Linked DNA regions of Homo sapiens. The protein of the gene in region 1 interacts with the protein of each later gene in a biochemical or structural test. Each region holds a gene or a part of one and is shown in the gene's direction. Other genes may lie near its edges. The genes, in order: TBXT, NFIB and NFIA.

Region 1 (3,600 bases):
TTAAAATTAAGTACAATCCATTTGCAAAAGCTTTCCTTGATGCAAAGGAAAGGTGAGAGAATTCTAACTATAAATACCCTTGGGCAAAGAAGTATGCAGAAAGATGAAATATTGCTGCACATACTCTTTTCTGAATTTCCTTATTTTTGAAAATTCGATATACTTTTTTTTTTTCATTTTGATAGAAGTGATCACAAAGAGATGATGGAGGAACCCGGAGACAGCCAGCAACCTGGGTACTCCCAATGTACGGTTTGTTGCACTCTGTCATGTCATTCTGCGTCATCGGGACTAGACTTGCTGAGAGCTGGGAAGTGGAGATGGAGAAGACAAGGGTGTTTCTGGGTGTGCCTGGGATGTAAGATTGCCTTTTTGCCATGCGAGGCTCTTGGCCCTGTGATGTTGAAGCTGTGTTGCCCATCTAACCTCTGCTCTAATCGGGGCTGTGGATACTCTCCTGGGTGCTTTTGTTTTGCCGTGAGGCAGCTGCCACCATGCCTGGGGTGGATCATTGAGACCTAGCTGGGTGTTTGGACTCTCCTGTATTAGGTAGGCAACAGGAGAATCTAGCTCATTACCTCCTCTTTGAGGCTTTCATTAATGGTTGAAGAGCCATCTTTCCAATGATGCTTAGGAACCAAATTTTTCCTTAGCCCTTTGGTTCTAGGAATGTCTCACCAGCTCCTGTGGCTCTGAGGATGAGAGAGTTGGATTTAAGTCTAGCTCCCTCTAGGACTTTCAGGAGTCAGAGTGCAGGATAGAGGATTATACGGCAGCATTTGTTGGGAGAAACGCTCTCTCTCATCCTGGTCCGTCCTCTCCACCCGGGGAAGGGACTTGGAGATATTAAACAATGAACGCGGTAGCACTGGCTGGTCAAGAGGCTGGATGAATCAACAGGGCACACTCCTCCTTACACAGGCATTTTCTATTCTGTAGATTTTTCATCATTTCCTAGGCTGATTGAACAACCAGAAAGGCAGTCACTTGAGTAGAGTGAGCCACTGCTCTGGCCAGGGCCGGCTGGGCAGCCAGGGCACGTCTGCACCCTTCCTTCCAGTGCTGCCTGGAGAATTGTTAGTAGTTTGGAAATTGAAGCCACAGTAGTTGTCCCGCTAGGGGTTGCTTTTTCTCAATCAAAACAACAAAGCTTGAAGAGTGTAGAAGAGGACGGGCACGGTGGCTCACGCCTGTAATCCCAACACTTTGGGAGGCCAAGTTGGATGGATCATTTGAGATCAGGGAGTTAGAGACCAGCCTGGCCAATATGGTGAAACCTCATCTCTACTAAAAATACAAAAATTGTCAGGCATGATGGTGGGCGCCTGTAATCCCAGCTACTTGGGAGGCTGAGGCATGAGAATCCCTTGAACCTGAGAGGCGGAGATTGCAATAAGCCAAGATCACACCACTGCACTCCAGCCTGGGTGACAGAATGAAACTCCCAGTCTCAGAGGAGAAAAAAATGAGTGGACAAGAAATTGTAGTTTTAGAGGAAGGAAGGGGAGTCTTGGAAGAACTTTCTGATTCTCCTGGGGAGAATGGGGGGAGCTTAAACCAGGAGAGTGAGCAGTAAAAGGGTCTACCCCCAGCTAGGAAGGCACCTCCCGTCTCTGTGGGTGGCAGGAGGAGAAGGGGAGGGCACCCTTGTCTAAGCACCACCCCACCTCTCTCAGCATCTCTCACCTGCTCTCTGCCTGTGGTTACATTGTATTCATGCTCAGTGGAGGAAAGCTCACCTGCCTTGGGGAATAGTAGATCTCAAAGCAATCCAGAGGATTCTCAGGAGGAAACAGCTTAGGTTGCCTGAGGCCAGGCTCCTGGGTTTACTCAGGTACACACAGGATTGGAAGCCTTGGGTTACCTGTGGTAGTGAGTGTGGGGCTGATGGCCTCAGATGTCTTGTGAGGCAGACTGTGTCCTAAGTATGAGACACTCAGGGTGCTTCCCCCATCAGGGGCCCCTGAGGGGAAGGTGGGAAGTCACTGGCCTGGGCTCTGCTCTCTGGAGTGATGGAGGGACAGTCCCTGGCCTGGGCTCTGCTCTCTGGAGTGATGGAGGGAGAGTCCCTGGCCTGGGCTCTGCTCTCTGGAGTGATGGAGGGAGAGTCCCTGGCCTGGGCTCTGCTCTCTGGAGTGATGGAGGGACAGTCCCTGGCCTGGGCTCTGCTCTCTGGAGAGATGGAGGGAGCACTAATGCAGGTTACTCAGCACTGTCTTTTCTCACAGCAGGGGGGTGGCTTCTTCCTGGAACCAGCACCCTGTGTCCACCTGCAAATCCTCATCCTCAGTTTGGAGGTGCCCTCTCCCTCCCCTCCACGCACAGCTGTGACAGGTACCCAACCCTGAGGAGCCACCGGTCCTCACCCTACCCCAGCCCCTATGCTCATCGGAACAATTCTCCAAGTGAGTCCTCAGCCTCATTCTGCCAGGGGTTGGTGGGTGGCTGCAAGACCACTTTGGGAAAGGCATTCTGCAGGAGTCTAGAATCTAAAAAAATGGAGACGGTTTTCTGGAACACATACCCAAGCCCAGTTTTTTAGTAGCTCAAGAGAAGATCTTCAATTTATGTCTCCGCCACTGCCGCTGCTGGCGGAACAACCACGGACACCCAGATCAGAGGCTTGCATCCTTGCACAGGCCTCAGAGCTGCTGCTCCAGGTTTTGAAAATGACAGATTCCTGGGCCTCTCCACAGAACCATGGTCGATCCTTAGGAGGAGAGCCCAGGTTTGAGTCTTCTATGAACCTCTCTAAAGTGACAATGATGGGCAGCCAGGCTCAAGAATTCCTGACTACACCAGTGATTCTCCAAATACGGTGCCCAGGCCAGAGCCTCAGCACCACCCGAGAGTGGGCACAGTCTCAGGCCCCACCCCAGACTGACAGGCAGCAGCTCTTGGTGGGGCCCGGCAATGTGTGCTTTTTTTTGAGACGGAGTCTCGCTCTGTCGCCCAGGCTGGAGTGCAGTCGCACGATCTCGGCTCACTGCAAGCTCCGCCTCTCGGGTTCACGCCATTCTCCTGCCTCAGCCTCCCAAGGAGCTGGGACTACAGGTGCCTGCCACCAGGCCTGGCTAATTTTTTTGTATTTTTAGTAGAGACGGGGTTTCACCGTGTTAGCCAGGATGGTCTCGATCTTCTGACCTCGTGATCCACCCGCCTCGGCCTCCCAAAGTGCTGGGATTACAGGCGTGAGCCACCACGCCTGGCCAGTGTGCTTTTAAAAGCCTTCCAGGCCATTCCGATGCATGCTCCAATATTAGGAACACTGGGATAGACCATAAAGATCCCCTGGCCTAATTCTCTCTATAACACTGTATATGTCTAGACTTAATTTTGTCTGGCTCCAAAAGAAGGAAAATAGCTAAAGAATACCATAAAACAATTAAGCAATTAAAGCTGATTTGAAATGAAAGGACCTTATTGGGTTAGGAAGTCACTGGGACTTGTTCAACCAGAGGCTAGACTCTGAGGCAGGAAGATCTTATTTCTAATTTTGCCTGGAGTAATGGTTTCTATCGCCCATTCTTATGAAGTAATCACTGGTAAAAAGGCAGGGTAAAGTTATATTTATTTTTAAAGATAAGTAATTCCAAGTCA
Region 2 (3,823 bases), on another chromosome or scaffold:
GGTAAACTTGGCAAGCTCGCCTCATTAAGAGCGCTCTTTGAAAACGGACTGTGTTTGAGCATTTCCCTAATGAGGACAGGACGGGGTTAAAAAGTGACCATTTCATGGTTGACTTGAACCTGCCTACTTTTCTTGATGTGTCGTTGTGAAATGCTTGATGTGGATAACTCCCACTTGGTGAAGGAAAAAGTCACTGGTTCCTCCAGGTCCGCTGGGGGAGGGAAGAGGGGACGGTGGACAGAAACCAGAGGGAGTGAGAGGGGCTAAAGTTGAGGGGACAGATCACGAGCTGGGAAGCGGTGGAAAGAGGACCGGGGAATCGGGGGCGAGCCTCGAAACGCCCCAGCAGTACCCGTGGAAGCGGGGCGGCCCCGCCCTGGGGATGGGCCCGCGAGGACCCGGTAGCCCCAGCGCCCCCCGGATCCCCCAGCTAGGTAGACTCGGAGCCCCAGGCGCTCACTTTTCCTCCCTCCATTGTCTGGGAGGCCTTTGCTTCCCCCTCGTCCCCATCCACCCCAAGCAGAAAACTGGATTTGGGGGGCGGTGTGTGTATGTGGGCGGGGGGTGCAGAAAGGGTGCAAGGCGAACCGCCTTCTTCAAAATCCCTGGAATCAAGTTCATTCACTCGGAGCCTGCACGGGCGACGGGGTGGGGGCGGGGCAGCGCCGCGGTGGGGAGCCGGCGCGGGCGCCGAGCGGCTCAGGGCCCGCAGCCTCTGGAGGGCTGCAGCGGCGCGCGCGCGCCCGCCGGCCCGCCCCGCAGCCCCGGGCGCGCCGCGGCCCCGCCCCGCCTGCACCCGGGCGGGTAGGGAGACGCTTTCCGCCGGCGCCCCGGGCCCCGGGGGGTGGGGATTGGGAGCCAGCCAGCGGGGCTGCAGGAGGAGGAGGAGGAGAGCGAAGCCGGGCGCGGGGAGGAGGTGGAGGGAGCAAGAGGCGGCGGCGGCGGCTCGGCCCGGTCCTCCCGCTCAGAGCGAGGCCACGTGCACGGGGCACCCCCGGGGAGGGCGGCAAACCGCGGCGAAGCGCCGCGCGCCGCGACTGCCTCGGGTGCGGGCCCCTGGTGGGCAGACCCGGGACGAACCCGCACCCCCTCCCTATCCGCGAACCCGGGCTCCGGGCGGGGCCGTCGGGGGCTGGGCGCCGCACCCCCCTGGTCCACGCCGGCGCGCCCCAACTACTTGAGCCCAAGTTCGCTCAGGTCCCCGCCTGCTCGGCCTCCCCCTTTTCCCGGCAGCCGCAGGCTCCGCGGACTGAGCCCGCCCCGGGTGCGAGTGTCCGCGCCCCAGCCCCGGCCTGGGGGCGGCCTGGGTGTGAGGGAATTTTCCACTCGTTCCTTTCTCGGGCTCAGACGGTTTCGGTGCTTCTCCCACTCGGATGTTCCCGCGGCTTAAAAGAGTCCGCAGCGAGCACCGAAATACCTCTTCCAGGGCGGGTTTTCGGGGGTGTGTATGTGTGTGCTGGTGTGGGGAGGGCAGCGGAAAGAAGAGCTATTTTGGAAAAAAAAAAAAAGTCATGGTTCTGTAGCACCGGTAGGATACCTTTAACAAATGAGGGAGAGGTGGGGGGAGAGAAGGAGAAGGAGGAGGAGGAGGAAGGTGGGGGGGCGGGGGGTGTGGAGAGGCTGGTGCAAAAGGAATGCGCGTTTGCAGGAGGAGGAGTAAAGCGATGATTGTGTAATTAAATAATAAAACAATCCTTAAGTCTGATTTGGAGAGAGCTCGAGCGGGGTCCAGAGGGTGGAACCGGTGAATTTTTCAACTTCCAAGTTTTGCAACGAAAGAAAGCAAGAGAGGGAGGGAAAAAAAAGAGCCTAGAGCAGAAAAGAGAGGAGTTTGGAGCCGAGCGGGAGAGCGGGATTTATCGTTTGGAATTTTTCAGGAGATCGTTTTGATACCCCTGGGCTCTGGGCAGCGGCGGCAACAGCAGCCTCCACGCTCGGCCGGGTCAGACGCGGGGCGAGGCGGGCGGGCGGGCGGCCGGGCGCCGAAGACCCGGCGCGGGCGGCGGCGGCTGCTGCTGCCGGGGACCACGCGCCGCGAGCCTCTTCCGCCCCAGAGATCAGCGCTCGCGCCCCCTCCCTCACCCCGGCCTCTCCCTTCTCCCCCATCCCACCCCGCCCCCACCCCGGCCCTCTCCCGCGCGCGCCCCGCCACCCGCGCGCACTCGCTCACGCTGCCCCTCGCGCACACACATGGTCGGCTCGCGGCAAAGTTTCGCCTGCGATCACCACTCCGGGATCCTGCCGCAGTGCTTGGGGCTGTAACCTTGAACTTTCCCAGCGCGGTGACACATTCTCCCCGCTCTCCCTCCCGCCCGCCCGCTCGCCCTCCTGCGCCCTCCCGCGCCCCCCTCCCCGCCTTTTTTGAAAAAGCATTTTACCACCAACCACCACCCCAATCCAACCCACACCGAACCTTCGCGCACCCCCTACACCCCAACAACAACAACAACTGCAAAATAGAAAACAAATCCCCAAACCCAGGCGAAAAGCAGCCAACACCGGCGGCGGCGGCGGCCTCGGCAAGCACGGCCAGCGCGCTCGGACTGCAAGAGGGTTAAAAGTGTAGATTGGATTTCACCCCTGGAAATCTAGCACGCCGAGTGAACTTGAATCTTTGGCTATTTAAGGAGGACTGGGTTTGTTGTGAAGTTGCGGTGATCCAGCGCAGAGCCCCGTCCTGATTGATCGCATCGCGGGGCTCAGATGACTGTAAAATGAATAGATGAAATTCTTGCTTCTCGAAGATTTTCTTGGGCATCTCCCGGAAAGTGCGTTTTAAGGCGAAGTCATGATGTATTCTCCCATCTGTCTCACTCAGGTACATGTCTCGGTCGCTTTCTCGAGCTTTCTCTCTGGCCCGAAATGCCTTTGTTTTGTTTTGTTGCGGACAATTAGCGGCTTGAGTTAACCTCCGCACATCCCCGTCCCTTGGAGAAGTGGCCCGGAGTTGCAGCGGGCGTCGCGGGGCGGCGTGGGAGCCGGGAGCGGCCCCTCGCCACGGCCACTGCGAGCGCCCAGCCCCGCGCCCTGGGCACGGAGCGCGGGCGCTGGGCCGGGCAAGGCCGCCGGGGGGTGGGCAGGGCCGGGACCTGTAAGTGCGAGGCCCCGTGCGGCCCCTCAAGTGCCCGTTGTGGTGCGGCATCCCCGCCCGGGGTGCCCGTAGCCCCTCTCAGCAGCTCGCGCGTTGAGGTGGACTCGGGCTTTGGAGGACTTTACGGGGGACTAAGCTTTTAAAAACAGCCAGTGAACTTGGGCGAGGGGACTGTAGCACGAGTCTGTGTGGGCGCCGCTGGACTGCGCTGCAGGCGGTGGGCGGGCGACGAATCGAGTCGGAGGTTGTGGTCCGGGGACCCATTCCTTTGCTTTATTTGGGGATCTGAAACCCTGGTCCATAGTGACCTGCTGCACTTTGGGGTTTCTAGTGACCGCACCACAAAGGCAGTATTTACGTTGACACGAGTTAGTTGGTCTTGGTGATTGTTAAGGAGTTTTTAGAACGTGTTCCTTTTGTGGAAACCTGTTCATTTGACGATATTTGGGCGTAGCTCGTAAGGCATTTTAAGTAATGCTGGTAGAAGTAAGGTCATTTTTTTCGACTTTGAGAATTGTCCTAAGACCTTAGGAATAATGTTATGAAATAAAACACTGGTTTTATACTTTTTAGAAACACGATTTGTATCACTTTAAGCCAGACGGTCAAATAGAAAAGCGGCGAGACCCAACAGACTTACCTGGGGGCAGTTTTCATCGCTGCCCAGGGAACTAACAACTGACAAAGTAACTAAAATATCTTAGCCCAGAACTGTTATTTGAGGCAGTATTT
Region 3 (3,823 bases), on another chromosome or scaffold:
TTTAAGATGCTGATTCAAAGTAATACCACTTTTGAAACAGGTTTTCAGGTTTGTTTTTATTGGTGGCCTATAACTTTCTCACTGAGTACATATGTAAAACGTTCTTTTTTTCCTCTTGAATGTTATGAAATAGTACCTAGCTTATAGCGATATGTTCAGCAACATGAATTATAAGGGCACACTACTTTTTTTTTTTAACTAATCATTTATGCTATTCCTGGACATTTCTTGCAAGCTAATGATACTCTTTAGTTTTGATATTCTGGAATATTTTAAATCATGACTTGAGAAAGATACATTAGAAAAAATCAATACTTTAATTGTGCATATGAGTAAAGTTATACAAAATATTGTGGACTTTTACTGGCAGGTTCTTAACCTTTGGGGAGTAATACATTGTAAATACTTTTGATGCAAAATTGGGGACTTAAGTTATTCTTAATGACTAATTGACATAGTTGTTCTTGTTTAAGGATTTTTATGATGAGATATATGGGCATTTGGTTGGCAGGTAAACAGAATCCTGTTGGACACGAATGCATGCATGCAGTTTGCAGTTTTTTGAAAAGCATATTGGGAGTATCTACAGACACTTAAAATGCCATATTAGAATGTTTATTTTAAATGCTTATTATCATTAATCAAACTTTTAAATAAGATAACATTTTAACATAGATATGAATCGTTTGGAGCTAAGTTATACTTTGCATTATAAAATGGGGATGAAACTTTAAAATGAAGTCCTCCTTTTGGTGAAAGCTCACTTGGTAGTTTAAGGTAGACTCCAGGAGTTTTTTGCATAATACAACAGAGTCTTGGTCCCTAGCATGTCTTGTATATATAAGAAAATCAGTCAATGTGAAGTTCTGTTTCAAACCTAAAATTTATGTATTTTAGATCATTTCAAGGATGAGCTCAGAATTTAGTAACGTTTAGATGCTTTGTGGTTTGGCGTATACCTTTGCAGATAAACTGTGACTTGCCCCCCATGCCTGTCACCTAAAGTATGAGAATAAGAAATATTCTCAAACATCAGAAATTTTAAAAATGTTAATGGTTTATGGCAAGAATAACAATTCCTGTATTTTTTTCTATTCTCTCTCTACTTAAAGAATGCACACGTGTTACAAAAGCTGACTACTTCTCTTTTGGATTCTTTTATTGAAAAAGAGCAGTTTTGAAAGCTAAACTTGAAACATAGAACCTGAAATTTGTGCAGAGAGGAAAAAAGTCAGTTATTGAAGTAATTTATTATGTATTAATATATACTTACTTTTAAAAGCTCAGTCATATAGAGTGTTTAAATGATTGATTATAATTTGCTAAATTTTTAAACAACACGACTATTAAATATTTTACCTTATCAGTTCACATTTGAACATTTAAAAATTTAGTAATTGTGTTAATAATAATATTCTGGACATTACTGCTACCTGTGCCTTGAAAGTATATATTTAGTTAGATATAACAAACTGAAAAAGAATGCATTTTATAATATTTGTCTGTCCTACACCATTTAGCAAAAAAGCCATCGAATCTTTCTTTGGTTTCTAATCCTCATTTATTTGAAGGTAATCTATGTTTTGGAGAGGGGGTTATGTGGCAGAGAGAAGTTATGTAACAGTGTGGATTAGTTAATCAAAAGTTAGACGTACTCCGAAAGCTTTGTGGAGGTTACTGCTTAATTTTTTAAAAAATATATTTATATTTCCTAAGAAAATGTCATGTATAAGGATCAAACATTTTAAGCAAAACAGAAAGAAACATTTAAATATTTGAAACTCAATTTTTTTTTCAATTTTAAGAGGCATCTATGAGGGTTTTCCCGGCATCTTGTAAATATTGAAAATACCAGGTTCTGATTCCCTATGAGAAAAATCCTGAAATAGTATTTGCAAAAATTAAATAATCTATTTTTTAGGTATGATTATTACTGAAAGCACTTCACAATCATATTAGTAAATTAAATGTATTCATGTATGCTTTTCTTTGTTTTTTTTTCCTCTTTCTTCCCCCTTTTTGTTTCATTCCCATAGTATTAGCAATTATGTCTTGGGCATAGATCTTTTATTTTAGCCTAATAAATATCAAATTCAATCCTTCTTTTGTATATGAACCTCCCAAATTTGTCCTAGTTTTTGACTAAAAAAATTATATGTAGTTATAATATTTAAAAGGGGAATTTAGACACTAGCAAAATGAGTAAGAAACATATCAGAATCTACATGCAATATTTTTAGGGGGAAAGCCTTTGTTTTCATTGATTGTAGAGATGATTTTTTGCTCCTAGACTTCCATAAACATTGACTGGCATCTAAATGTTTAGGATTTGCCAATCTGGCGGCTGGGCCCTGGCTGTACTACAAGTGGTGAGGTCAAGGCTGGGACAAAATTAGATATGCCTTCCTTGAAATAGGGTTAAGATTATACATTGTTATAAGCATTTAGATAAACTTCACTTACTATCTAAAGGATGGGGAGCTAGGCCCGACAGTAGTAGCTGGTGTACCCTGGTGAACATATTAAAACAGTTTTTTAATTTTCAGCAGTTTTTTTATTTCCGATCATAAGAAATGATACTGATAGTTTTCTCTCCCACCTTCCCAGACTTCCCATAGGATCCTGTGTATGATTTTGGTAACAGAATGCTCTAATCAAATTTCAAGTGAAATGAGGAATTTCTTTCTTAAGGTGACCCGCTGAAGAAAAGTTGTTTTCTTTTGTTTTCATTCTACTTATATTTTTCTTTTTGTTCATTTTCCTAGGATGAATTTCATCCTTTCATCGAAGCACTTCTGCCCCACGTCCGAGCCTTTGCCTACACATGGTTCAACCTGCAGGCCCGAAAACGAAAATACTTCAAAAAACATGAAAAGCGTATGTCAAAAGAAGAAGAGAGAGCCGTGAAGGATGAATTGCTAAGTGAAAAACCAGAGGTCAAGCAGAAGTGGGCATCTCGACTTCTGGCAAAGTTGCGGAAAGATATCCGACCCGAATATCGAGAGGATTTTGTTCTTACAGTTACAGGGAAAAAACCTCCATGTTGTGTTCTTTCCAACCCAGACCAGAAAGGCAAGATGCGAAGAATTGACTGCCTCCGCCAGGCAGATAAAGTCTGGAGGTTGGACCTTGTTATGGTGATTTTGTTTAAAGGTATTCCGCTGGAAAGTACTGATGGCGAGCGCCTTGTAAAGTCCCCACAATGCTCTAATCCAGGGCTCTGTGTCCAACCCCATCACATAGGGGTTTCTGTTAAGGAACTCGATTTATATTTGGCATACTTTGTGCATGCAGCAGGTAAGTGCGATGGTGAGAATTCCTCCCACTTTCTTGTGTGTGTTTCTTTCCTGATGGCCTCCGCGTTATGCCGGATTCTTCCTGAGCTCCCCAAGTTGCAGGCCACGTACATGAAGCCAGTGTGGTTTCAAAGATTGAGAGAGGTGCCACCTTCATTCAGGTGAAAAAGCATAGCTTTGAGCGAATTCTCACTAAGTTCAGCTCTTTTGGTAAGTAGTGTTTTCAGAGGCGTTGGTAATCAGATATGTGATATGTTTAAATCACATTTTTTGATGAGGGGATGAGAGAAGCCTCGTGAAAACCCTTTTAATAAAGAGTATATTTTAACTGACAAATGATCTAGTTTAAAAGCATTTATTTTGGTATTGAGGCAATATTTTTAGTTGGTTTTCTGCTGGGAGTGTTTTTAACCTACTGAGGCCTCTTGAACCCCTTGCCAATTAAGAAGTTGGAGGTAGATTACTATCAAATTGCTGATCATTTAGGAAGGAAAAATAATCACATTAATACGCAGACTTAGTAGCTT

What was found.
Region 2: the proteins of TBXT (region 1) and NFIB form a complex in vitro, tested with the Homo sapiens proteins (one study listed by BioGRID).
Region 3: the proteins of TBXT (region 1) and NFIA form a complex in vitro, tested with the Homo sapiens proteins (one study listed by BioGRID).

Annotation. Positions count from the first base shown.
Region 1 is NC_000006.12:166,161,252-166,164,851, reverse strand, and holds part of TBXT (T-box transcription factor T), read left to right. Parts: coding exon 1-52; intron 53-185; coding exon 186-247; intron 248-2,228; coding exon 2,229-2,405; intron 2,406-3,600. UniProt on the Homo sapiens protein: Involved in the transcriptional regulation of genes required for mesoderm formation and differentiation. Binds to a palindromic T site 5'-TTCACACCTAGGTGTGAA-3' DNA sequence and activates gene transcription when bound to such a site.
Region 2 is NC_000009.12:14,312,477-14,316,299, reverse strand, and holds the start of NFIB (nuclear factor 1 B-type), read left to right. Parts: upstream 1-2,158; 5' UTR 2,159-2,788; coding exon 2,789-2,818; intron 2,819-3,823.
Region 3 is NC_000001.11:61,085,384-61,089,206, forward strand, and holds part of NFIA (nuclear factor 1 A-type), read left to right. Parts: intron 1-2,765; coding exon 2,766-3,297; intron 3,298-3,823.